Linked DNA regions of Homo sapiens. The protein of the gene in region 2 purifies or fractionates together with the protein of the main gene of each other region. This does not show direct contact. Each region holds a gene or a part of one and is shown on either strand. Other genes may lie near its edges. The genes, in order: NOTCH3, DNAJC10, PGAM5, YBX1, PI4KB, AKAP9 and PDE4DIP.

Region 1 (3,500 bases), on a different chromosome or scaffold from region 2:
TAATCCCAGCACTTTGGGAGGCCAAGATGGGAGGATCGCTTGGGCCCAGGACTTTGAGACCAGCCTGGACAACATAGTGAGTTTTTGTCATCTCTACAAAAACTTGGTAGGCTGGGTGTGGTGGCTCACGCCTGTAACCCCAACACATTGGGAGGCCCAGGCGGGTAGATTGCTTGAGCTCAGCAGTTTGAGACCAGCCTGGGCAACATGGCAAAACCCTATCTCTACCAAAAATACAAAAAATTAGCTGGGCATGGTAGCGCATGCCTGTAGTCCCAGCTACTCTGGATGCTAAGGTTGAAGGATGGCTTGAGCCCAGAAGGTGGAGGTTGCAGTGAGCTGAGACTGAGCCACTGCGTTCCAGCCTGGGAGACAGTGTAAGACCGTGTATAACAAAAAAGAGAGAGAAAAAAAGATGATGCTGGAGGCAGCTTTAGTGGGGAAGTGTAAGCCTGGGAGAGGCTTGGGAGGAGGCTGACATTGCACTGATGCATGGCTCAGGGCAGAAGCCATTGGAATGGGGAACTCCTGGGAGTTACCTTTGGAAGTGGCAAAGATCAGAGAACATGTTTAGGAGGGGAACGTGGATATAGAAAGAGGGCATACATGGCAGAGGGTATTACAGAAGCAAAGGCTGGAGTGTAGGACCCTTTTGTAATCAGAAGAGTCAAAAGGTTTTAAAACAATATGTGGATGTTTGCAATTTATTTTATTTTATTTTTGAGACAGAGTCTCACTTTGTCACCCAGGCTGGAGTACAGTGGCATGATCTCAGCTCACTGCAGCCTCGACTTCCTGGGCTCAAGTGATCCTCCCACCTCAGTCCCCCAAGTAGCTGGGATTACAGGCGTGCGCCACCATGCCCGGCTAAGCTTTGTATTTTTTGTAGAGACGGGTCTCACTATATTGCCCAGGCTGGTCTTGAACTCTTGAACTCAAGCGATGCACTCACCTTGGCCTCCCAAAGTGCTAGGATTATAGACGTGAGCCACTGTGCCCGGTCTGCAATTTATTTTTAAATGGTTTAGAAAAGAAGATTGGTAGATTAAGCTAACAATAGTTGAATCTAGGTGGTGGGTATATGAATGGTCAACTTTTCTGTATGTTTGATAGTTCTCATAATAAATGGATTAAAAAAGCAGCTACTAAATACTGTTTAGGTTTAATAAAAACAACAGGCCGGGCGCGGTGGCTCACGCCTGTAATCCCAGCACTTTGGGAGGCTGAGGCAGGCAGATCACCTGAGGTCAGGAGTTTGAGACCAACCTGGCTAACTTGGTGAAACCCCGTTTCTACTAAAAATACAAAAAATTAGCCGGGCGTGGTGGCACATGCCTGTAATCCCAGCTACTCGGGAGGCTGAGCAGGAGAATCGCTTGAACCTGGGAGGTGGAGGTTACAGTGAGCCAAGATCGCGCTATTGTACTCCAGCTTGGGCAACAAGAGCGAAACTTCGTCTCAAAAAACAAAACAAAACAACAACAACGACAAAACAATACTCAAGGGGTGTGGGCCTTTTGGGCAGAGCAGGAAGATCTGCCTATGACTTCTGCTTACCACTTCCCAGGCCTCCTGTGTCACCTGGATGACGCCTGTGTCAGCAACCCCTGCCACGAGGATGCTATCTGTGACACAAATCCGGTGAACGGCCGGGCCATTTGCACCTGTCCTCCCGGCTTCACGGGTGGGGCATGTGACCAGGATGTGGACGAGTGCTCTATCGGTGAGGGGAGCTCCATCGTCTGTGAATGGGCTGGGAAAGAGGGGAGAGGAGGGGGTCCCGGCCAGCCACGCCCACACCGATCGCACTCCATCCGGCAGGCGCCAACCCCTGCGAGCACTTGGGCAGGTGCGTGAACACGCAGGGCTCCTTCCTGTGCCAGTGCGGTCGTGGCTACACTGGACCTCGCTGTGAGACCGATGTCAACGAGTGTCTGTCGGGGCCCTGCCGAAACCAGGCCACGTGCCTCGACCGCATAGGCCAGTTCACCTGTATCTGTATGGCAGGTGGGTGGTGGGCGTGGCCTGGGCGGGTCCTGAGGCAGGGGGCGGGGACAGAGAAGCCCGCGGATGGGGAGCTGAGCAGAATGGGGTGTAAGTGGGTTTGGAGTGGGACCCTTAGAGACTGAAGCCTGGAAGGAGGTGGGGTCAGGACCAGAAGGGAATACTGTGTGATTCTGGGGGCTTGGTCAAATGGAGTCAGTAGAACCTCAGGTGGGCTGGGAGTATTCTTGGCCTTAGGACCCACTCGGGAAGGGGTTGGGGATAGAGAGGCAGAGTCGGGGCTGCTGTGAGGTCAAGGTGAAGCCTGCAGACAAGCTTGCAGTAAGCCTGGGCAAAGGCTATGGGGGGCCCTGGGGCTGGGGGCTGGGGACTGGGGAAAGGGCTTAGTCTGAGGACTGGGGAGAGGAGGAGGGGTTTGAAGGCAAGGCCTCTGCGGACACCCATGAGCCTTGGGCCAGTTGGGACCACGGCTGGGTGACAGTCCAGCCTGTGGCTGAAAATTAAGGTTGGGCTGGGAGTGTAGAGGTGGGGACGAAGGCTCGGGGGATTTGTCGATGAGTAGGAAGGGAAGTACCTCCTTCCTTGCACCCCGTTCACACCATAGGGTAGCCCCCGCTTTCCTAAGCCCTATTCCCTGCCCCAGGCTTCACAGGAACCTATTGCGAGGTGGACATTGACGAGTGTCAGAGTAGCCCCTGTGTCAACGGTGGGGTCTGCAAGGACCGAGTCAATGGCTTCAGCTGCACCTGCCCCTCGGGTGAGGACCTCAGGAGAGGGAGCCCGAAAAGACATGTCTGGGAAGGGGCAAAAACTCCAGGGTGGGAACCTGTAAAACCACGTTAGCGGATAACTTACAATAGAAACCATATGTTATGAAACATTGAAGTTAATTTAAATCCAAGTAAATGGGTTTTTCCACCCAAACAAGGCGGGGCTGGAGAGGGGTGTACTGCTCTCACCCTTTCTGGGCCTCTGCTCATCCCACTCCCCACCCCAGGCTTCAGCGGCTCCACGTGTCAGCTGGACGTGGACGAATGCGCCAGCACGCCCTGCAGGAATGGCGCCAAATGCGTGGACCAGCCCGATGGCTACGAGTGCCGCTGTGCCGAGGGTGAGGCGGGCCAATGACAGTCCGACAAGAATCAGGAGGCGGGGCTTGTGGGCGACAGGGCCAATAACAGACTTGGGGAGAGCTTGGGGGCGGGGTTGTAGCAAGGCAGGACCCAGTGACAGAGTTGGGGGGTGGAGCCAATAATGCATATAGACTGACATAAGGCTACGTGTGGAGCCAAAGTGTTGGGCTGGGCACAGGGTGCCTGTAACTGAATGGGGAGGGCCCAATACCTTCCCCTGGCACCTGCCATGTGCTCCCATCTCCAGTGGAGGGTGGGGCAGAAACAGGGCTGGAGGTGGGGCCACAGCTGGGGGCGGGATTTAACTGTGGGAGAGTCTTGGCTAGGGACAAATTCTGGAGCTTGTAGTGGGGTGGAGTGGAA
Region 2 (2,854 bases):
TGTCCCCCTGGCTGGAGTGCAGTGGTGTGATCTCAGCTCACTGCAACCTCCACCTCCCAGGTTCAAGCGATTCTCCTGCCTCACCCTCCCAAGTAGCTGGGACTGCAGGCATGTGCCACCACGCTGGCTAATTTTTGTATGTTTAACGGAGACAAGGTTTTAGTGTGTTGGCCAGGCTGGTCTCGAACTCTTGACCTCAGGTGATCCGCCTGCCTTGGTCTCCCAAAGTGCTGGGATTACAGGCGTGAGCCACCGCACCCAGCCAATTTTCTTCCTTTTTAAGGCTGAATAATATTCAATTATATATACATTCTACATTTTGTTATTCGTCCGTTGATAGGCTGCCTTCACCCTTTGGCCATTGCAAATAATGCTGCTATAAACATGGGTGTACAAATATCAGAAACCCTGCTTTCAGTTCTTTCAGCTATATACCTAGAAGTGTAAGTCTATATCATAGTAATTCTATTTTTAATATGGGGGGACCTCCATACTGTTTTTCATAGCAGCTGCACCATTTTACATTCCCACCAATAGTGCACAAGAGTTCTGATTTTTCCACATCCTCACCAACACTCATTTTTTTTAAATAGTAGGTATCCCAATGAGTGTGCGTTCATATCCCATTGGAGTTTTGATTTGTACTTTTAGAGTCTTTAAATTATTACTTTTTCCATATCAAAGTACTTTGTGGGAAGTTGGTTATTTTACATTCTCATACCATGCTTTGTATTACTTTCCCATTTGGATGCCCTTTTCATCCTTCACCTCATCCTGTAAACCCAAAATCTAACTTAAATCCCAAATCCAACTTCCACTGTAAAGCCTTTGCTGACTTCTTTACTTCACATTGATTTCTGAATTTCTAAAAGTTCCTCATTGTCTACCACAAAACTAAGTATTTGTTTATAAGAAAAAGCTTTATTTAGTCCTATATTATTCTCTGATTATTCCATATGTTATCTTCCAAACTAGATTGTTAGGTCTTCAAGAGCAGAAGAAATTTATTTTATACTTATAAACTTCAAGATTTGCTGAAGTACTTTGGGTGCTAAATGCTTCTAGCTTATTCGTTTAGTTTACATGACTTTCTGCATGTGAAACTTGAGAAAACTGCAAATCTAATACCTTGGTCTTACAGAACTGAACAATACTTAAATGTGTTTAAACCTGCTATATAAAATGTCAGATGTAAAAGCGAATATCTAATGAAGCACCTTTTCCCTTTTCTAAAATTCAATAGTAAGGGCCAGGCACAGTGGCTCACACCTGAAATCCCAGCGCTTTGGGAGGCCGAGGCGGGTGGATCCCTTGAGGTTAAGAGTTCAAGACCAGCCTGGCCAACATGGTGAAACGCCGTCTCTACTAAAAATACAAAAAAAAATGGCCAGGCGTGGTGGTGCACGCCTGTAATCCCAGCTACTTGGGAGTCTGAGACAGGAAAATCGCTTGAACCCGGGAGGCAGAGGTTACAGTGAGCTGAGGTCACGTCACTGTACTCCAGCCTGGGCAACAAGAGTGAAACTCTATCTCAAAAAAAAAAAAAAAAATTACAATAGTAATAATTATGCCTTCTAACACTAAAATCAAATAACCTTACTTATCAGTTACATTGCCTACTAAGCTGACTTATTTTCTGACTTTTCCTTTGCTTTATTCTCTTATTTCTTCCAAGTAACCATATTCTCTTTTACCCTCCTGTTCAACTGTCTATGCTCCTTCTCTCTTTGTTCACTATTTTGATATTTAAATGTTATGACTTATTTTCAAGTAAATATTTTTTTAATTTCTTCATTTGGGATAAAATATTCACTACATAAATTTAGTGGATAAATACCCCCACAGAGATCGACCCTGCATGAAATGTGTTCCCTCAGAAGTAGGGCAATTCATTCATTATGAGATCAAGCCATAAAATTTAAATCCAAGCAGTAATTCTCCAATTAAAGTAACTCTAGAGCTTAGTTTTCAGTCCTCCTGAATCATAACTAGTTGGCAACAAAAACTAGTATGCCTTGGTGTGAATAAACCTTAACATAGAAACTCACCCAGCCTCAAAAGTTAAAAATTAAGAGAGATATGTATTCAGGTGGCCATTTATACACAATATTTTTGAATACTATTCTGGCCAAATTAGTATAAAATGGGTTACTCTAAAATGAAATTTTAAAAGTATATAAACATCTTAAACTTTAAAACTTCAGCCCAGCTAGAAGTCAACGTGTGTTTCTGAAACTATGCTGGGGAAAGTAGCTCTGTCCATAATGATTATATAGTTGTTAGCAAAATATTGGTCAAAACTTTTTCAGTTTAATGAGTTTCAAGATATTCTTCAAACTGGCCTCTGTGAACTCTTTCTTGACAAGTGAAACCTGGCTCCAACAATGACTACTTTATTCTACCTCTCATTTATTTTCTGTTTAATAAATCCAGTATTTGGGCATACAAACTGTATACAACATTTTATAACACTCTAATGTGGATAAGACACCTCAAAAACAGGAGTTTAGTCATTTCAGTCACATGTTTCTAATACATGATAAGATTTGCAGTTATCGTTTAATTAATTGCAATATGGAAATAGATACTAAAAAATCTAAATTGCATCTTACATTTCAACAATGGATGTTTAAAGCGTTTAAAAGTTATGTTTTGCATTTTACAACATATTGAAGATACACATTTTAAATTTAACTCTAAACAATGCAATAATCTAGAGAATCAGAGAATTGGATCCTGAAACACCTTATAAGTTCAGTCCTGTTGATTAGTATGTTTCCCTGTCCTAGAGTGCATGAACTTTCAAAGCCAGGACACAATCTTGTTCACTTTTCATGCCATCATCTTGACACTC
Region 3 (3,500 bases), on a different chromosome or scaffold from region 2:
GAGGGTGGAGGAGGGCGTGTTTGCGGGCGGAGGAGGGGGTGTTTGAGGGTGGAGGAGGGGGTGCAGGTGCGGCACTCAGGTGCCTTTCACCTTCCAGGTCGGGAGCAGGCTGAACTCACTGGGCTCCGCCTGGCAAGCTTGGGGTTGAAGTTTAATAAAATCGTCCATTCGTCTATGACGCGCGCCATAGAGACCACCGATATCATCAGCCGGCACCTGCCAGGTGAGTGCTGCGCGCGGGGCCTCCATGCTTGCAGCAGTGGGCGGCTCGTGGCAGGGCCCCGGCCTGAGCTCCTGGCCACCGGGAGGTCACAGCATCTCCGCCGGCGGGGCCGCCTCACCCAGCGCTTCGCTGTGCTTCTCTGCAGGCGTCTGCAAAGTCAGCACAGATCTGCTGCGGGAAGGCGCCCCCATCGAGCCAGACCCGCCCGTGTCTCATTGGAAGCCGGAAGCTGTGGTAAAAACCTCCCCGGGGGGCAGCTGTGTCACCCTCGCCTTCCCTGGGCAAAGCGGCCCTGCTGGGCTCACCATCCACCACGTGCCCGGCCGTCCCACGGGCTTCCCCGGGCGGCGATGGGGTCTGTCCTCCTGACACCCGCCCTGCCCGAGCACTTCCGCACTGACGGCTCCTCACTCTGCCCCCAGCAGTATTACGAAGACGGAGCCCGGATCGAGGCCGCCTTCCGGAACTACATCCACCGCGCAGATGCCAGGCAGGAGGAGGACAGTTACGAGATCTTCATCTGTCACGCCAACGTCATCCGCTACATCGTGTGCAGGTAGGCAGCTGCTGGGCTGGGCGTGGTCTAAAATAATTTCAGACTTAGAGAAAAGCATGAGGAAGAAGCCGAGCGAGACCCTCCTCCACTGCCGATGCCACCCTAGTCAGGCCTCACCAGCCCCCGGGCGTCCACTTCCCGCGAGTCCTAGTCAGTTACGCGGTAGGTGGCGTGTTACTTGGAGCTTCTCATAAGGCTGTTTTGGGCAAGGGTGGTGCAGACAGGGAGGGACCCCTGTGGTGTCCTGGGTGGGGTGCGTGCTGGGTGGGGGGTCCTGAGTGGGGTGCGTGCTGGGTGGGGGTGTCCTGGGTGGGGTGTGTGCTGGGTGGGGGGTCCTGGGTGGGGTGCGTGCTGGGTGGGGGTGTCCTGGGTGGGGTGCGTGCTGGGTGGGGGTGTCCTGGGTGGGGTGCGTGCTGGGTGGGGGTGTCCTGGGTGGGGTGCGTGCTGGGTGGGGGGTCCTGGGTGGGGTGCGTGCTGGGTGGGGGTGTCCTGGGTGGGGTGCGTGCTGGGTGGGGGGTCCTGGGTACGGTGCATGCTGGGCGTCCGCACTGCCCTGGTTGTTTTCCCTTTGTAATTGAACGTCCTGTTTCCCCTCAAACTCGACCAACCACCTTCTGCCTCCGGCTGGATCCCACTGGCAGCATCCCGCCGCTGTTGTCCGCTGGGGATTTTGTGCTTCTGGGGTCCTGACCTCTTTCACTTGCTGATCTGTGGGCGCTCCCACCCGTGTGCCAGCGTGACGGCTCGGGGTGTCCGCTCCCCTCTGGGTCGAGGCCACAGCTGAGTCACGTTGCTGCTCGGGCTGCTCCCTCGGGGGGCCCTTGTCCCTCAACCTGCTCTGGTGCCCCACTCTCAGCACCACAGAATGATCCGGGTTCAGGTTGCGTTTTCCCTGCCACCACCCTGCAATCAGCCACTTCTTTAAGGAGCTCCAGGGCTGCAGCCACGTTAGAGGGCCCCTTGGGGGGCAGGGCCAGCTCTACGGTTACATGCCTGAAACAGTCAGAAGGGTTGGCCAAATCTCACTAAATGCAAATTTGAAACAAATTTGCCTCTTCTCTGGATCCATTAGGAAATGTGTGTGTGGGCTCCGCAGCTGAGGGGGCCCTCTTGAGTGTGACGAGTCCTGTGGTGGGAGGACAGGACGGCACTGGTCAGTGATGCCGTGTGAGGCTGGGCCCTGGTCTCTGCCCGTCTGTCACCTGGGCCTGTCACCAGGGCTGGGGCTGCTGGGAGCACCATGGTCAAGAGCAGCAGCTCCCAGAAAGTCGAGGATGTACGGGCCGAGATTCTCAAGCTTGGCTCCAGACCAGATAGAGCTTTTCTGGGGGTTGGAGCCTCCGGGTGGTGTGGCCTCAGGCTAAGTGAGTACCTGTTTGCTGTGAGTCGTTCGTTGCCTCCTGTCTGTGCTTGTGAATGAGCCATATGGGTGGCTTCTATGCTGCCACCACCACCTTGTGTGTCCATGACACAGTCACCCCGAGGTGACACAAATGCTAAAAATGCACAGAAATAACCGGGGCGGGAGAGTGGAGCCGACCTGAGTCCACACAGTGGTGAGGGCCAGGCACGTGCACCTGGACACGAGAATATGGCTGTGCTGTTCCGGCCGGTGCCGCCAGGCAGCCCTGAGGAGGCTCGGGAAGCAGCGTGAGGGTGGCCATGCGGCCCACTGAGACAGGGCGGTGGGTGGCTCAGAGGCGATGAAGGCAACTCCGAGCTTTTCCGCAAATGCGAATTGTGCCTAAGAAGTGCATGAAGATGCCACGGCGGGTAGATCCCATCTCCGTTCTTTGCTTTCCCAGAAAGGGACCTGTTGCACTAACTGGCTGCTCCCTGCTTTTATATGGGAAAAGCAGAAATTAAACTGTGTTTCCTCGTAAGAAGTCAGCGTTGTTCTGATCTGTGCAAATCTTGAGTTGGGGTTGGGCCCCTGTCCTAAAGAGGGCAGGTCCCCAAGTGTGATGGCTCCATTCATGTCGATCCCAGTCATCGATTCACGTCGATCCCAGCCAGATCTTCCCCGAGAAGCCCCGACTGAAGACAGGAGCGGCTCGGCTGATGTGTACCCCGGCCCTGAGGCTGCTCTGAGACTTCTGAGGGGCTCAGCCTCTGTTTGTAGAACAGAGCCCCCTGGCACAGCCTGGCCCAGCCTCTTTTAAGGACAGAGTCCCCTGGCTCTAGCCCAGCCCGTTTTTTTTTTTTTAGACAGAATCTCGCTCTGTCACCCAGGCTGGAGTGCAGTGGCGCGATCTCAGCTCACTGCAAGCTCCGCCTCCCGGGTTCACGCCATTCTTCTGCCTCAGCCTCCCAAGTAGCTGGGACTACAGGTGCCTGCTATCACGCCCAGCTAATTTTTTGTATTTTTAGTAGAGATGGGGTTTCACCGTGTTAGCTGGGATGGTCTCGATCTCCTGACCTTGTGATCCACCCGCCTGGCCTCCCAAAGTGCTGGGATTACAGGTGTGAGCCACCATGCCCGGCCTAGCTCAGCCCGTTTTAAGGACAGAGCCCCCTGGCTCTAACGTGCTCTTTCTCTCTCTCTCTCTCTCCCCAGAGCACTGCAGTTTCCTCCTGAAGGCTGGCTCCGGCTCTCCCTCAATAATGGCAGCATCACCCACCTGGTGATCCGACCCAACGGCCGAGTTGCGCTCAGGACCCTCGGGGACACGGGGTTCATGCCTCCCGACAAGATCACTCGATCCTGAGGGCTCCGGCCTC
Region 4 (2,444 bases), on a different chromosome or scaffold from region 2:
GATGGCAAGAGATCTGTTAATGTCTCCCAATACACAAGTAATGTAAACTAGGGCATGTACTACACTAAATGAAGATCACCATGAATTCTACATGATCATCTTTATTTTTTTCTTTACAGTTTAGTCATCCAACAAGAAGAAATATGAAATTCCAGCAATAAGAAATGAACAAAAGATTGGAGCTGAAGACCTAAAGTGCTTGCTTTTTGCCCGTTGACCAGATAAATAGAACTATCTGCATTATCTATGCAGCATGGGGTTTTTATTATTTTTACCTAAAGACGTCTCTTTTTGGTAATAACAAACGTGTTTTTTAAAAAAGCCTGGTTTTTCTCAATACGCCTTTAAAGGTTTTTAAATTGTTTCATATCTGGTCAAGTTGAGATTTTTAAGAACTTCATTTTTAATTTGTAATAAAAGTTTACAACTTGATTTTTTCAAAAAAGTCAACAAACTGCAAGCACCTGTTAATAAAGGTCTTAAATAATTGTCTTTGTGTAAATTTGTCTAGTTTTGCTTTAGTTTGTAAGTATTTAGCTATTTATAGGACCCTTAGCTTGACCCAGTCTACAAATAGATGATGCTCACTGGTAATTCCCTCAGGTAAAATGTCTCAAAATCTCTAATCCTTTAAGTGGCATGCCTGTGGGCCCATACTAAAAATTAGAAAATACATACTCTGATAACCTGGCCATTTTTCATTGAAGGATTTAGCTCATTTGTAAGAAAGACTTGAGTGTAGATTTTGGGTGGGTCCCTTTGGCTGTGAGGCATTGTTTAAAAGGGCATTGCTCTAGCCTAGACCGACCAGACTCTCATCCTGCTCCACTTAGTTTTGTCACCTTGGGAGAATTTGTTTCAGTGTGTCAATTGAAGATGCCAATTGAAGTGTTAGGACAACCTGTCACACTGCCTGGTGTGGTCATCAAATATTGGTTCAGCTCCTTATGTCCTAGAGATGGAAACAAGTAATATAAAACCCATGGGAAAGCTGCTTAGGAACATGGAGGTTGGTGAGCTTGTAATTATGTGGTTCTCAACACCTTAAATCCTAAGCCTAGTCTGGCTGATCTTTTCTCTTTTTGAGACGGAGTCTTGTTCTGTCATCAGGCTGGAGTACAGTGGCACAATCTTGGCTCACTGCAACCTCCACCTCTAGGTTTAAGCGATTCTCCTGCCTCGGCCACCTTAGTAGCTGGGAGTACAGGTGCGTGCCACCACACCCAGCTAATTTTTGTATTTTTAATAGAGATGGGGTTGCACTGTGTTAGCCAGGATGGTCTTGATCTCTTGACCTTGTGATCCGCCCGCCTCAGCCTCCCAAAGTGCTGGGATTACAGGTGTGAGCCACCGCACCTGGCCTCTCTGGCTTTTGTTTTCTAATGTTTTGTTAGATGTTCTTTGGCTTGCTTTGTGAAATAGTCATGTAGTTGATAGTGACTGCTGCCCCGAAACACTCCAGATCATCCTGGCCAGCTATCAGGGCCCAGGGGAAGCAGACAGTAGGGGTCGGGAGTAGGCCAGAGTGGCACATCAGGAATCCTGCAGTGCTGTGGAAGTCATCTCCTGCTTGGGACTAACTCTTTGCAGAGGACTTGATAAGAGACTACTCAAAAAAAATTTTTTTAACCCTACTTAGTGTAAATATCTGTACTGCAGAAGTGAGTTAGCCTATTTCTTGCTGGTGTTCATGAAAATACTGTGTTGGCAAGAGTGCAGTGGACCTGAAACTTCAACTGTTGGTAGCATCTAAACTGTTACTTACAACTGCAGACGCACACAGTCCCTGACTTAAACAGTGGTTTGACTTAGGGGCTTTTAGTGGGGTTACGGTTTCTACTGAATCAACATTGTTTTCATGGCATCACAGAGTTGAAAAATCATAAATGAAACCATTGTAAGTTGACTGCAGTGTTGCCAACATTAAATGCAGTTTCAACTTAATGATTTTCTGACTTGTGGTTTATGGGGACATTGACCCATCATAAATTGAAGAGCATCTGTATTAGGATATCATGGAAATGGGAAGACCAAAAACATTGGTTAAACATCCAATAATGTTAGAATGAGATTCTCGAAAACACATTGAGGAGGACAGTTGTTTGGGGGAATACAATCTTAGGTGCTAGTGTTGGAAACAGAACTACGTACATGTTTTTAGATACTGTCTCCTGTTCTGTTGCCCAGTATTTTGTGTACTTACGGATTATTTGTAAGGACTACAGAGGCTATACATCTCAAAAACTACCCAGAAAACTTGCAGCCAAGATCAAGGTTTAGAACCTGTTCTGCCAATCAGATACACCAACATGAGACCTGGAGACATTGCTAGGAAGCTATGCAAACTCCTTTTGCTAGCGAGGGTAGTCGCTGTGCTTTGGTGATGCTGCAGCAGCAATGGTTTCCTCCTATCTGCCTCACCTAGATGGTGACACTGAGCCTGG
Region 5 (3,500 bases), on a different chromosome or scaffold from region 2:
TTTTAGTAGCGACGGGGTTTCGCCATCTTGGCCAGGCTGGTCTTGAACTCCTGACCTCATGATCCACCCGCCTCGGCCCCCCAAAGTGCTAGGATTACAGGCGTGAGCCACCGCGCCCGGCCCATATTCTTCTTTCAAAGGAAATACTGAAGTTTGGGACACTCCTTGGGACAGTGCCCAGCTTTGTCCCAGTCTTTTTGTCCACTGTAGCTCCCTGGGCCCTGTCTTCAGGACGAGCCCACAGAGGCATCTAGGCCTCCCTTACAGCCTGTAATTGATAGTCTAGAGTGGTTTGGCCCAAGCACATCATCTGTACATTTTGGAGCTCAGTTGAAATATTTTGAAGACTTAAGGATTCTGTCACACAAATTCTTTACATAGGTGATCATAGGACAAGTATCTGCCCTAAATATAGTGTTCATAGTTTCAGAGGACTATTGGATGAAGGCTGGAGCTAGGAGAAAGGACAGCAGGAAGAACCTTGCTAACAGAGTTGAGATTTGGGGGTTAGTGGTGGAAGTAAGTTGCAAATACTGTCTCACTCTTCCCCCAGGCTCCCTACCTGATTTATGTGGAAGTCCTTGAATGTGAAAACTTTGACACCACCAGTGTCCCTGCCCGGATCCCCGAGAACCGAATTCGGAGTACGAGGTCCGTAGAAAACTTGCCCGAATGTGGTATTACCCATGAGCAGCGAGCTGGCAGCTTCAGCACTGTGCCCAACTATGACAACGATGATGAGGCCTGGTCGGTGGATGACATAGGCGAGCTGCAAGTGGAGGTGAGAGGGCTTCAGGGAGGTAATGCTGGGTCACAGGAGCTTTCTCCAGGAGCTTTCACTATATTGGAAACAAGACAGCATATCCCAAGGCAGGGTAAGGCAAGTATCCTAATGAGTGGTGTAGGTAGTGAGGGGTAATATGGGGAAAGCTCTGAACAACTCTAGCCTGGAATAGATTCAGGTGGAGTTCATTTTCCAGGTGAAGGATTCAGATTTAAATGTAAAGAGGAGCTTCTAGGCCAAGGGGAGTGAGGGAAATTTAATGAAAATATTTATTGAACACCTACATAAAGTTGTCATAGAATAGCAGAGGATGAGAAGTCATACATTAATTCATTCAAGAAATTTTTATTGAGGGCCTTCTATGTGCCAGACCTGAGTGCTGTATGCTAGTGAACAAGACTTGGCCCCTGCCTACAAGGGATTTATGACCTAACTGGAAAGAGAACAAGGCCAGTAAGCAAGTAGTTGTAGTGTGGTGAGAGTCAAGTCATGGGGGAAAGGATAGGACATTATAAGAGCACCAGACTTGGGGCGGGCATCACAAGAGATTTCCTGGAGGAAGTAATCTCTCAGCTGAGGCTGGAAGCATGGGTAGGAATTAGCTGGACAAAGAGTGCTGGACAGAGGGAACACTGCATGCAAAGGCCAGAAGACAAGAGGGAGCTTGGGCCATTATAGGAATTGAAAGAAATTTTGCCTGGCTGTGATGTGCAGGTGTGAGGTAAGAAGTGGTGAAGAATAAGACTGGACACGTGGGCATGGACCAGACTATAGGAAGGACCCTGTAAGCTGGGGAAAGAAACTTGAACTTTATTCTGGGGCATGAAGAGCCAGAGCAGAATTTTGTGTAGAGCTATTAACACAGCTGGCCAGGCGCAGTGGCTCACACCTGTAATCCCAACACTTTGGGAGGCCGAGGTGGGTGGATCGCTTGAAGTCAGGATTTCGAGACCAGCCTGGCCAACAAGGTGAAACTCCATCTCCACTAAAACTAGAAAAATTATGCCGGGTGCGGTGGCGCACGCCTGTAATCCCAGCACTTTGGGAGGACAGGGCGAGCAGATCACCTGAGGTCAGGAGTTCGAGACCAGCCTGGCCAACATGGTGAAACCCCGTCTCCACTAAAAATACAAAAATTAGCCGGGCGTGGTGGCATGTGCCTGTAATCCCAGCTAATCGGGAGGCTGAGGCAGTAGAATTATTCGAACCCAGGAGGCGGAGGTTGCAGTGAACCAAGATCACGCCACTGCACTTCAGCCTGGGTGACAAGCAAAATTCCGTCTCAAAAGAAAAAAAAAAAAAAGCCAGGTGTGGTGGAACATGCCTGTAATCCCAGCTACTCGGGAGGCAAGTGATTCTTGAAGCACAAGAATCACTTGAACCTGGGAGGCGGAGGCTGCAGGGAGCTGAGATCACAGCACTGCACTCCAGCCTGGGTGACAGAGTGAGACTCTGTCTTAAAACAAAACAAAACAAAAACACAGCCAGGGCCAGGCGCGGTGGCTCACGCCTGCAATCCCAGCACTTCGGGAGGCTGAGGTGGGCAGATCACCTGAGGTCAGGAGTTCAAGAACAGCCTGACTAACATGGTGAAACCCCGTTCCTACTAAAAATACAAAAAATTAGCCAGGCATGGTGGCGCGCGCCTGTAATCCCAGCTACTCAGAAGGCTGAGGCAGGAGAATCGCTTGAACCTGGGAGGCGGAGGTCGCAGTGAGCCGAGATCACACCATTGCACTCCAGCGTGGGCAACAAGAGCGAAACTCCGTCTAAAAAAAAAAAAAAAAAACACACAGCCAGGTTTCACTTTGCCAAAAGGCAGAATCTCTGTCTTTGAGCTTATAGTCCAATTGCAGAAATTAGACATTTAAGAAAAAAAAATTTAGATATACAACAAAGCAGTGTGTACTAGGTGACAAATGGAGTTGAGAAGAAATGCTCTGGTATGAAGGACAGAAGAGACTTGACATGGGCCTTGGGGTCTGGTAGAATATTCTGTATTTAGAGAGAGATGAGAAGATAAGATTGAATGACTTAGATTGAAGAAACTGTCAGAAGCTAGTCTGCAAAGAGTCTGCTTTGGACCCTAGGGGAGAACGCATCCCTATCCTTGGGGGACTCTCAGTGAGGCTGAAATTTTGAGCTCCTGTAATGGTCATGGCAGTGGTTTGCAAACTTTAGTGCATTGGAAGTCTTCTGGAGAACTTGTTAAAAATTCAGACTTTCAGATCCCATTCCTAGTAATTATAATTCAGATTGATGGTGGGGCCTGGGAATCTGCATTCTGGGTAATTCTACTGCAGGTAGTTCACATGTTGAGAAATGCTGCTCTGGGCAGCCTGGGGTCCCAGTAACCAACATGGTGTGTAAGCAGAGTTTGAAAGAGAGGGATGAGCATGCTGCAGTGATAGCAAGCAAGCAGGAGGGGAAAGACGGGAGACCTATACTTTAGCACTTCTGACCAGCACTCCCCTTTCTCCAGCTCCCCGAAGTGCATACCAACAGCTGTGACAACATCTCCCAGTTCTCTGTGGACAGCATCACCAGCCAGGAGAGCAAGGAGCCTGTGTTCATTGCAGCAGGGGACATCCGGTATGGCCAGATCACATTGCCCCTCATTTTTCATCCCTCTTTCAGGAACTTCCCATCTCTTTGTTACCTTCCTCTCCATCTCAATCATCTGTTGTTGGCCTGTGTCTTTCCCTCTTTCATTCTG
Region 6 (3,156 bases), on a different chromosome or scaffold from region 2:
CCAAAAAAAAAAAAAAAGAAAAAAAATATACATAACCTAAGGCTTAATGTAAAAATGTAAAAACCAGTGTTTAAATTTGTAACTGATTTCCAAGGGTATAGCAAACAAGCTGACCAAGTGTTATTTAGTGTATGCTATGGTTAGATATTGGGAAAAGTATTGACTAAAATTGATACTCTGATCATTATGAAAAGCTTAACAGTCTTCATGACAAGATACATTTATACATACCCAATTTATTGAGACCTCTGCCACAAGCATTGTATTGGACATTCTTATGTTGACTTAGTAGCATCTTTGAATTCATTGGAGAGTTGTCTCTTTCTCATCCCAAGCTCCAAAGCTGAAGCTTGGAGGAGATACATTATGTGTGTACAAGTGACCCACCTTTTTGGGGAAGGGAGTGGAGGCAGGTTGGTAACTTATATGCATATTTCTGGATAACTTGATTCATGTACATATTTTTAATCCTTTAGGTACCCAGGCACTCCAGCTGATTTCAATCCTGGTTCTTTAGCATGTTCTCAGCTTCAGAATTACGATCCTGACAGAGCCCTAACAGATTATATCACTCGGCTAGAGGCACTGCAAAGACGACTTGGAACTATACAGTCAGGTGCTCTGAGTTTAACCACATCTTGGCAGCACCACAGTGCGAGACCCACAGCTCCCCTTTCTTTGAAATTCTTTCACACTCATTAGGATAATCAAAGCTTCCAGTTTAGTGCATGAGCTAATTATTAAGTTAGCCAAAGCTTAAACTCTTGTAACCAGCAGAGAAACTGACTTTAAATAATTTAAGTGAAAATATGATTTATCACCCCAGATCCCACTCCTCCCAAAAATGATTTCCTACTATGTTCATTCAGCGGACTGATGACACAAAATGCACAATGAGCACCAGTGTGCAAGGTACTCTGAGTCTACAGAGCCTAACTGGAGAACGTATTCCTAAGTAGCGCATGGCAGAAAGTGGTAAGGCCGTGCCGCAGCACTCCAGCCTGGGCAGCAGAGCGAGACCCTGTCTCAAAGAAAAAAAAAAAAAAAAGAAAGTGGTAAGGCATGCAAATCGGGTGGAGTTAAGGAGGAAGCACTTACTTTAAGCACTTAATGTAACCATTATCCCTGCTACTATATTGTGCTTTTATGTATCATCGAAAAAAACTATCCCATTTAAAATACTTTGTAAGGATTATTTTTTCTTTGTTCAAAAACAAAAAACAAGTCATACTTTAAAATAAAGGTGGATTCCCTGTTCATGGAAGGAAAACCTCTTTTCCCTATCTCACTTCAGTTCACTCCTGATTCAGAGACTTTGAATCATTGAGTAGTTTATCTCTTCCTTCAAGAAATCATTTGTTTACACCCAAGCATCTTGTAGTAATAGGAAACTTTTATTATCATAGCTGAGTTTGTTGGTTTGCCTAGGCTTGTTTTGTTTTGAGCATCCAAATTTCACAAGACCCAGATTTTGAAGACCAAAAGATTTTTCAAAAATGTATGAGGTATAGAACATCCAACTTTGAGAGCACTTTAAAAAAACTCTAAATATTAGTCTCACCTACCTTGCCATAGAGCCAGTCATGGTGATTTTTACATATATATTCAAAATCTCTTAAAAGTCAGCTTAAGTATATGGGCTGGGCGCGGTGGCTCATGCCTGTAATCCCAGCACTTTGGGCGGCCGAGGCAGGCGGATCACTAGGTCAGGAGTTCAAGACCAACCAGTTCGAGACTAGCCTGGCCAACATGGTGAAACCCCGTCTCCACTAAAAATACAAAAATTTGCTGGACATGGTGGCATGTGTGGATAGTCCCAGCTACTCAGGAGGCTGAGGCAGGAGAATCACTTGAACCCAGGAGGCGGGGGTTGCAGTGAGCCAAGATCACACCACTGAATTCCAGCCTGGGCAACAGAGTAACACTCCACCTTGGGGGTAGTGGGGAGAGACTCAGTTTAAGTATGAAGAGGACATTTTAAGGAAAAAAAGGGCTTTAAAAAAATGGAGAATAATAATAATTTCCTTTGTGTGAACTCTGGTGGGTCTGATACAGGTAGCAATGTAATTTGAAATCAGTTGAATTTCCTGTTTTTCTCTCATAGGTTCAACTACTCAATTTCATGCTGGCATGAGAAGATAATCCTTTGAAACATCATTAATTGAAGTGATTTTAAATAGATTTCCTTTTGTAAATCAATGGTTCTTTTGTGCTTTTGTATTGTGAATATTCAATGGGACCAATATGAACACAGCTTATGATTGTATACAAATCCCTTGCCAGCACATGAAAACAAACTGGAATTTGTATATATAAGCATTGTGTATGTATTCATGCACAATAATTATTGAATTACCTGTATATTTGTGGAATGCTAATTTAAAACATTAAATTATAAACCTTGTGTATTTATCAAATGGGTGAAAAGATTAAACTTTTACGCATTACAATACTGCTGAATGTGTAGCTCGAGGTGTCCTGCACTTTTCTTATAAGGCTACTGAAGTTACATGTTTTGCCTAATATATTCTACTGGTGATGAAGACAGATAATATCACTTGTAGAGACCTATTTTTGTATAATGGTAGAAGTTTTGAATTTTATGGGGTATTTTGTCAAGTACTGAAATAAAAATGACTTCACCATTTTCACCACACTGTATTTGAACCTTCTTCATTTTTAACTGAGCCATAGTTCTTGGTACATAGCATCTCATTACTTATGTCAAATATGTAGGAGTGAGAGATTCAGAGAAAGTTGTCCTAATCTTAGAGTTAATACTGTTGAAAGTTTTCCATGTGTCTTTGTATCAACTTTACATCTACATAGTGTTTTTTAAAAGCTATATTGGTATTTCATGATTAATCAGTATTTACTATATTACAGTTAGTGTTACTTGTTTCCAAAGATGTGTTCTCACAAATCCATGGCCCACTAAAAAGATGAAGAAATCATTAACTCAAAAGATCTTAATCACATTGCAGCCGAATTAAACAGTATCCCTGTTGTCCAAGCCAAATTCAGACTGGGAGGCTCTCACAGAGATAATACAGATCGCAATGTTATTTCTCATCTGGAGTCCTCCTCAATAACATGGCAACTCACTAAAACAGCAAGAGGACTAGTATTTGATGCTTACACCTGGAGGATTTTGTC
Region 7 (3,500 bases), on a different chromosome or scaffold from region 2:
TTAGCCTAGAGGAATCAGGGACATTTATTTTTCTCTGAATTTATGGTGAGTTAGTAGAGAGTCCTGTTTACAAAGACATAGTTACAACCAGAGATATATGGCCACTGAGGTTAAAGTGGTTAAATGATTTGCTGGCATTCACACAACTAGTATGTGTTGTATGAAGGCCTAGTTAATTCCAGTACCTTTACTTATTATGGTGCTGGTGCTTTGCATGTAACACTTCATATTAGGAAAATGCTTGTTTTCAGAATTCTATTATTGAAACATCTTTGGAAGTTGAATTTCCTGTTTAATATTCAGCACTGCTAGCAACTAATTATCTGAATTTTAAGAAGGAAATTCTGCCTTGGCAACTCCAGTCTACTTTTAAATGGGCCTATACTTGGATTTCGGCTTGGGGAATTTGCCAGAATCAATGCTTTCACTCCTACTTGCTTATTTTCCACACACTAGATCAGTCTGGACCTGACTCCCCCAACCCCCATTTTTTCAGCTACATGCTAAGACTATGTTTAAAATACCTAAAGACTGGGAAGGGGTTGTTTTTGTCTCAGAAAGGATAAGTAACACCTCATGGTGCCGTCCCCATCCTGGGAGGCTCGCCTGACTGTGGCTGAGGGATCATATTTTCAAGGCTAAGTGGAGCATCCATCCATTCAGTGGATGCCCCAGGACACTACTTCTATTGAAATCTACCCCATTTTATAAATAAAATTCCAAACTGGGCTCAGAACATTCCACAAGCTGTCTCTGGCAAAAATTCAAATAGCATTTAAAGTTAGAAGAAAGTCCAGAATACAAGAGATGTCATATTGACCCAAGGTGGCTCTATGTGATTCTATTTTAAAACACTCAAATGCACTGAGGACTTGTTTTCCTCTGCCTCAGAGCATTTTCTGAGTTCTGTGGCCAGCAAGACAAGCATGATCTGAATTTCTTTTTTCTGAACGCTTATGGCTAAAGTGCTAAATTAGTCATAGACTATTTATAATAAATTGTATAATAATACTGTTTTATTTTCATAGCACTTTCACAGCCTGTGATTCATCTTTCCTTAATCTGTCTCATTATCTTCAGTCCTTTTCTGCTTGTTACATTCCACAGAAACGTCTTTCTTTCTTGTCTTTTCCAAGGCCAGTGAGGGAAGAGGTAACTTGCAACTAGTGTCTTCTTATCATGGTCATGGTGGAAAGGGTGGAAAGAAGCAATAACTTCTGACATATAGAAAGCATTCACTGGCCAGGCACAGTGGCTCTCGCCTGTAATCCCAGCACTTTGGGAGGCCAAGGCAGGAGGATCACTTGAGGTCAGGAGTTCGAGACCAGCCTGGCCAACATGTTGAAACCCCATCTCTACTAAAGATACAAAAATTAGTGGGCATGGTGGGGGGTGCCTGTAATCCCAGCTAATCGGGAGACCGAGGAATGAGAATTGCTTGAACCCAGGAAGTGGAGGTTGCAGTGAGCCGAGATCACACCACTGCACTCCAGCCTGGGTGACAGAGCAAGACTTTGTCGGAAAAAAAAAAAAAAAAAAAAAAAAAAAAAAAACTAGAAAGCATTGACTCACAAAGAAAATTGAATAATTTCTAGCATTTCACACAATTTAAGAATGAATTTATTTTCCACTTCATAATGTGGTATATTATCATTCATAATGTAGAATAACATGCTGTGGATTTACAGTGTCTTTTAAATCATTACGCCTAACCCAAAGGATGTAGACTTCCAATTTTTAACTATTATAAATAATACTTGATAAATGTCTAGGTGCATAAAGCATCTTCTTCCACAGCATTATTTTTTGAATGAGAGATGTTCAGAAGTAGAATAACTATGTCAACATTTCCAGTTCTTGAAAGTACATTGCAAATTACTTAAAGTTATAGTCCCATAAGAAAGATATTGCATTCAATTTAAATATCTTTTTCAAGACCTGAATCCCTGTATTGTAAAGGGGGAAACTGAGGCACACTGACATTAAAGTGGCATAACCTAGGTGAATCAATAGCAACATTTCCAACTTTTACCCTTCTCTAGGGTAAAATGCTTCACTGTTGCTGTTAATCTCTATTACTATCCTGAAACGTTTCCTGAAATGATAATAAACAGAAAATTTTAACATAAGAAAGTAAAAGATAGATGTAAATTACATCAAAACTATGTATACCTATTAGGATGTCTATTACAAGGACAGAGAAAAGAGAAAATAGATGCCTTGTTTGGTTAGGGGATTATGGGCAACATCCTTTATATGCTGCTTTTAAACTAAGTCAACATAGGTTTTTATTGCAGGAAGAAGTTCACATTTGTGTCTACCAAATGACAACATGTAAAGTTTGGAATTGAGTTGGTTTTAGGTTTTTCTGTGTATCACTTGGAGGTTTTCTGTGTATAACTTTCTTGTATTACTTGGAGATTTTCAGGTTATTGGCACCACAGGAGCAGCATTATTGCCAGCAGACCCGGGGAGCTGGTTGGAGAGTCATTGCGACTTAATTTACCCTGAGCTAAAATTATTATGAGTGGGCCTTAATATACCAGTTGTTCCCACCTACACATCTAGCCTTGCCTTTGCTGGGATAAATTTGTATACCCTTCAGAGGTTAGATTCAGAAGTACCTCCTTTAGGAATTATTTTTAGAACCTAGATCTGGGTGTAGCCAGAACACGCTCTGCCTACTCTGTTGTAGCATGTAGCTAGTTGGTTAACTTGATATTTTCCATACTCCAAGTTTATCGGCAGAATGAAACGTTTTTGTCTATAAGTCTTCAGCATCTAACATTGCCTCTAGCACTTAGAAGGTCATCTATTAAGAGCTTTCCAGAGAACATTCCCCAAAAGGCCGATGGGAATATCTGTTTGGTGGGTGTCTCCTTATTGTAGAATGGATACAACAGGTTATCAAACTTGACACCATTATACATTCAGATTGTATTTATCATTGTTTAAGAAATATGTGTCTTGTTTCCTCAGTTACGGGAAAAGAAAAAAAAAAGAAATACGCATCCAATTCCTATGATCTAGACTTCTTTAATGCTGGACAGATGATAGTGAATGATCTAAAAACCCTCCCTTCCAGAGACTGACATTCTAGAGGGGTCACTAGGCATGGACATACATCACTGTTATACCTTGACCTGACATAGCCTTAACTCGAATTCACTTCAGTATGCTATCAGCACAGCCATCTTTTGTAGCTCATCTTTCTTCCAGATTTTCCACCCTTAGGATCCTTAATGCTGAAATTATACTTCTTGACCACAGGTCAAGTCCCCCACTTCCTCATTCTTTCTGAATGTTGTTTACTGCGTCATGTATTCCAGTTCCTCAACTCTCTGTATCTTCCAGGCCATCTGCTGTTTATTCACCTCCATACTGAACCTAGACGTCAGAGTCAGCTCTTTGAATCGTGTTCTCAACGCTGCTTTAGAATCTCTAACTGCCTTAACCATCTCCCGGCTTGGTAACCCTTAGTCAATTTTATTTTAAAATCC

What was found.
Region 1: the proteins of DNAJC10 (region 2) and NOTCH3 purify together in Homo sapiens (affinity purification with mass spectrometry; 2 studies listed by BioGRID and IntAct, with this or other methods). This does not show direct contact.
Region 3: the proteins of DNAJC10 (region 2) and PGAM5 fractionate together in Homo sapiens (co-fractionation; one large-scale study listed by BioGRID). This does not show direct contact.
Region 4: the proteins of DNAJC10 (region 2) and YBX1 purify together in Homo sapiens (co-immunoprecipitation; one large-scale study listed by IntAct). This does not show direct contact.
Region 5: the proteins of DNAJC10 (region 2) and PI4KB purify together in Homo sapiens (affinity purification with mass spectrometry; 2 studies listed by BioGRID and IntAct, with this or other methods). This does not show direct contact.
Region 6: the proteins of DNAJC10 (region 2) and AKAP9 purify together in Homo sapiens (affinity purification with mass spectrometry; 2 studies listed by BioGRID and IntAct, with this or other methods). This does not show direct contact.
Region 7: the proteins of DNAJC10 (region 2) and PDE4DIP purify together in Homo sapiens (co-immunoprecipitation; 2 studies listed by BioGRID and IntAct, with this or other methods). This does not show direct contact.

Annotation. Positions count from the first base shown.
Region 1 is NC_000019.10:15,187,496-15,190,995, reverse strand, and holds part of NOTCH3 (neurogenic locus notch homolog protein 3 precursor), read left to right. Parts: intron 1-1,567; coding exon 1,568-1,723; intron 1,724-1,821; coding exon 1,822-2,007; intron 2,008-2,647; coding exon 2,648-2,761; intron 2,762-3,001; coding exon 3,002-3,115; intron 3,116-3,500. UniProt on the Homo sapiens protein: Functions as a receptor for membrane-bound ligands Jagged1, Jagged2 and Delta1 to regulate cell-fate determination.
Region 2 is NC_000002.12:182,789,257-182,792,110, forward strand, and holds part of DNAJC10 (dnaJ homolog subfamily C member 10 isoform 1 precursor), read left to right. Parts: 3' UTR 1-2,854. UniProt on the Homo sapiens protein: Endoplasmic reticulum disulfide reductase involved both in the correct folding of proteins and degradation of misfolded proteins.
Region 3 is NC_000012.12:132,717,342-132,720,841, forward strand, and holds part of PGAM5 (serine/threonine-protein phosphatase PGAM5, mitochondrial), read left to right. Parts: intron 1-97; coding exon 98-223; intron 224-368; coding exon 369-457; intron 458-645; coding exon 646-779; intron 780-1,420; coding exon of another isoform or gene 1,421-1,469; exon of another isoform or gene 1,470-1,826; intron 1,827-3,336; coding exon 3,337-3,487; 3' UTR 3,488-3,500. UniProt on the Homo sapiens protein: Mitochondrial serine/threonine phosphatase that dephosphorylates various substrates and thus plays a role in different biological processes including cellular senescence or mitophagy. Modulates cellular senescence by regulating mitochondrial dynamics.
Region 4 is NC_000001.11:42,701,862-42,704,305, forward strand, and holds the end of YBX1 (Y-box-binding protein 1), read left to right. Parts: intron 1-119; 3' UTR 120-1,944; downstream 1,945-2,444. UniProt on the Homo sapiens protein: DNA- and RNA-binding protein involved in various processes, such as translational repression, RNA stabilization, mRNA splicing, DNA repair and transcription regulation.
Region 5 is NC_000001.11:151,303,417-151,306,916, reverse strand, and holds part of PI4KB (phosphatidylinositol 4-kinase beta), read left to right. Parts: intron 1-553; coding exon 554-781; intron 782-3,266; coding exon 3,267-3,376; intron 3,377-3,500. UniProt on the Homo sapiens protein: Phosphorylates phosphatidylinositol (PI) in the first committed step in the production of the second messenger inositol-1,4,5,-trisphosphate (PIP). May regulate Golgi disintegration/reorganization during mitosis, possibly via its phosphorylation.
Region 6 is NC_000007.14:92,108,018-92,111,173, forward strand, and holds the end of AKAP9 (A-kinase anchor protein 9), read left to right. Parts: intron 1-476; coding exon 477-616; intron 617-2,104; coding exon 2,105-2,142; 3' UTR 2,143-2,656; downstream 2,657-3,156. UniProt on the Homo sapiens protein: Scaffolding protein that assembles several protein kinases and phosphatases on the centrosome and Golgi apparatus. Required to maintain the integrity of the Golgi apparatus. Required for microtubule nucleation at the cis-side of the Golgi apparatus.
Region 7 is NC_000001.11:148,850,928-148,854,427, forward strand, and holds part of PDE4DIP (myomegalin), read left to right. Parts: intron 1-3,500. UniProt on the Homo sapiens protein: Functions as an anchor sequestering components of the cAMP-dependent pathway to Golgi and/or centrosomes.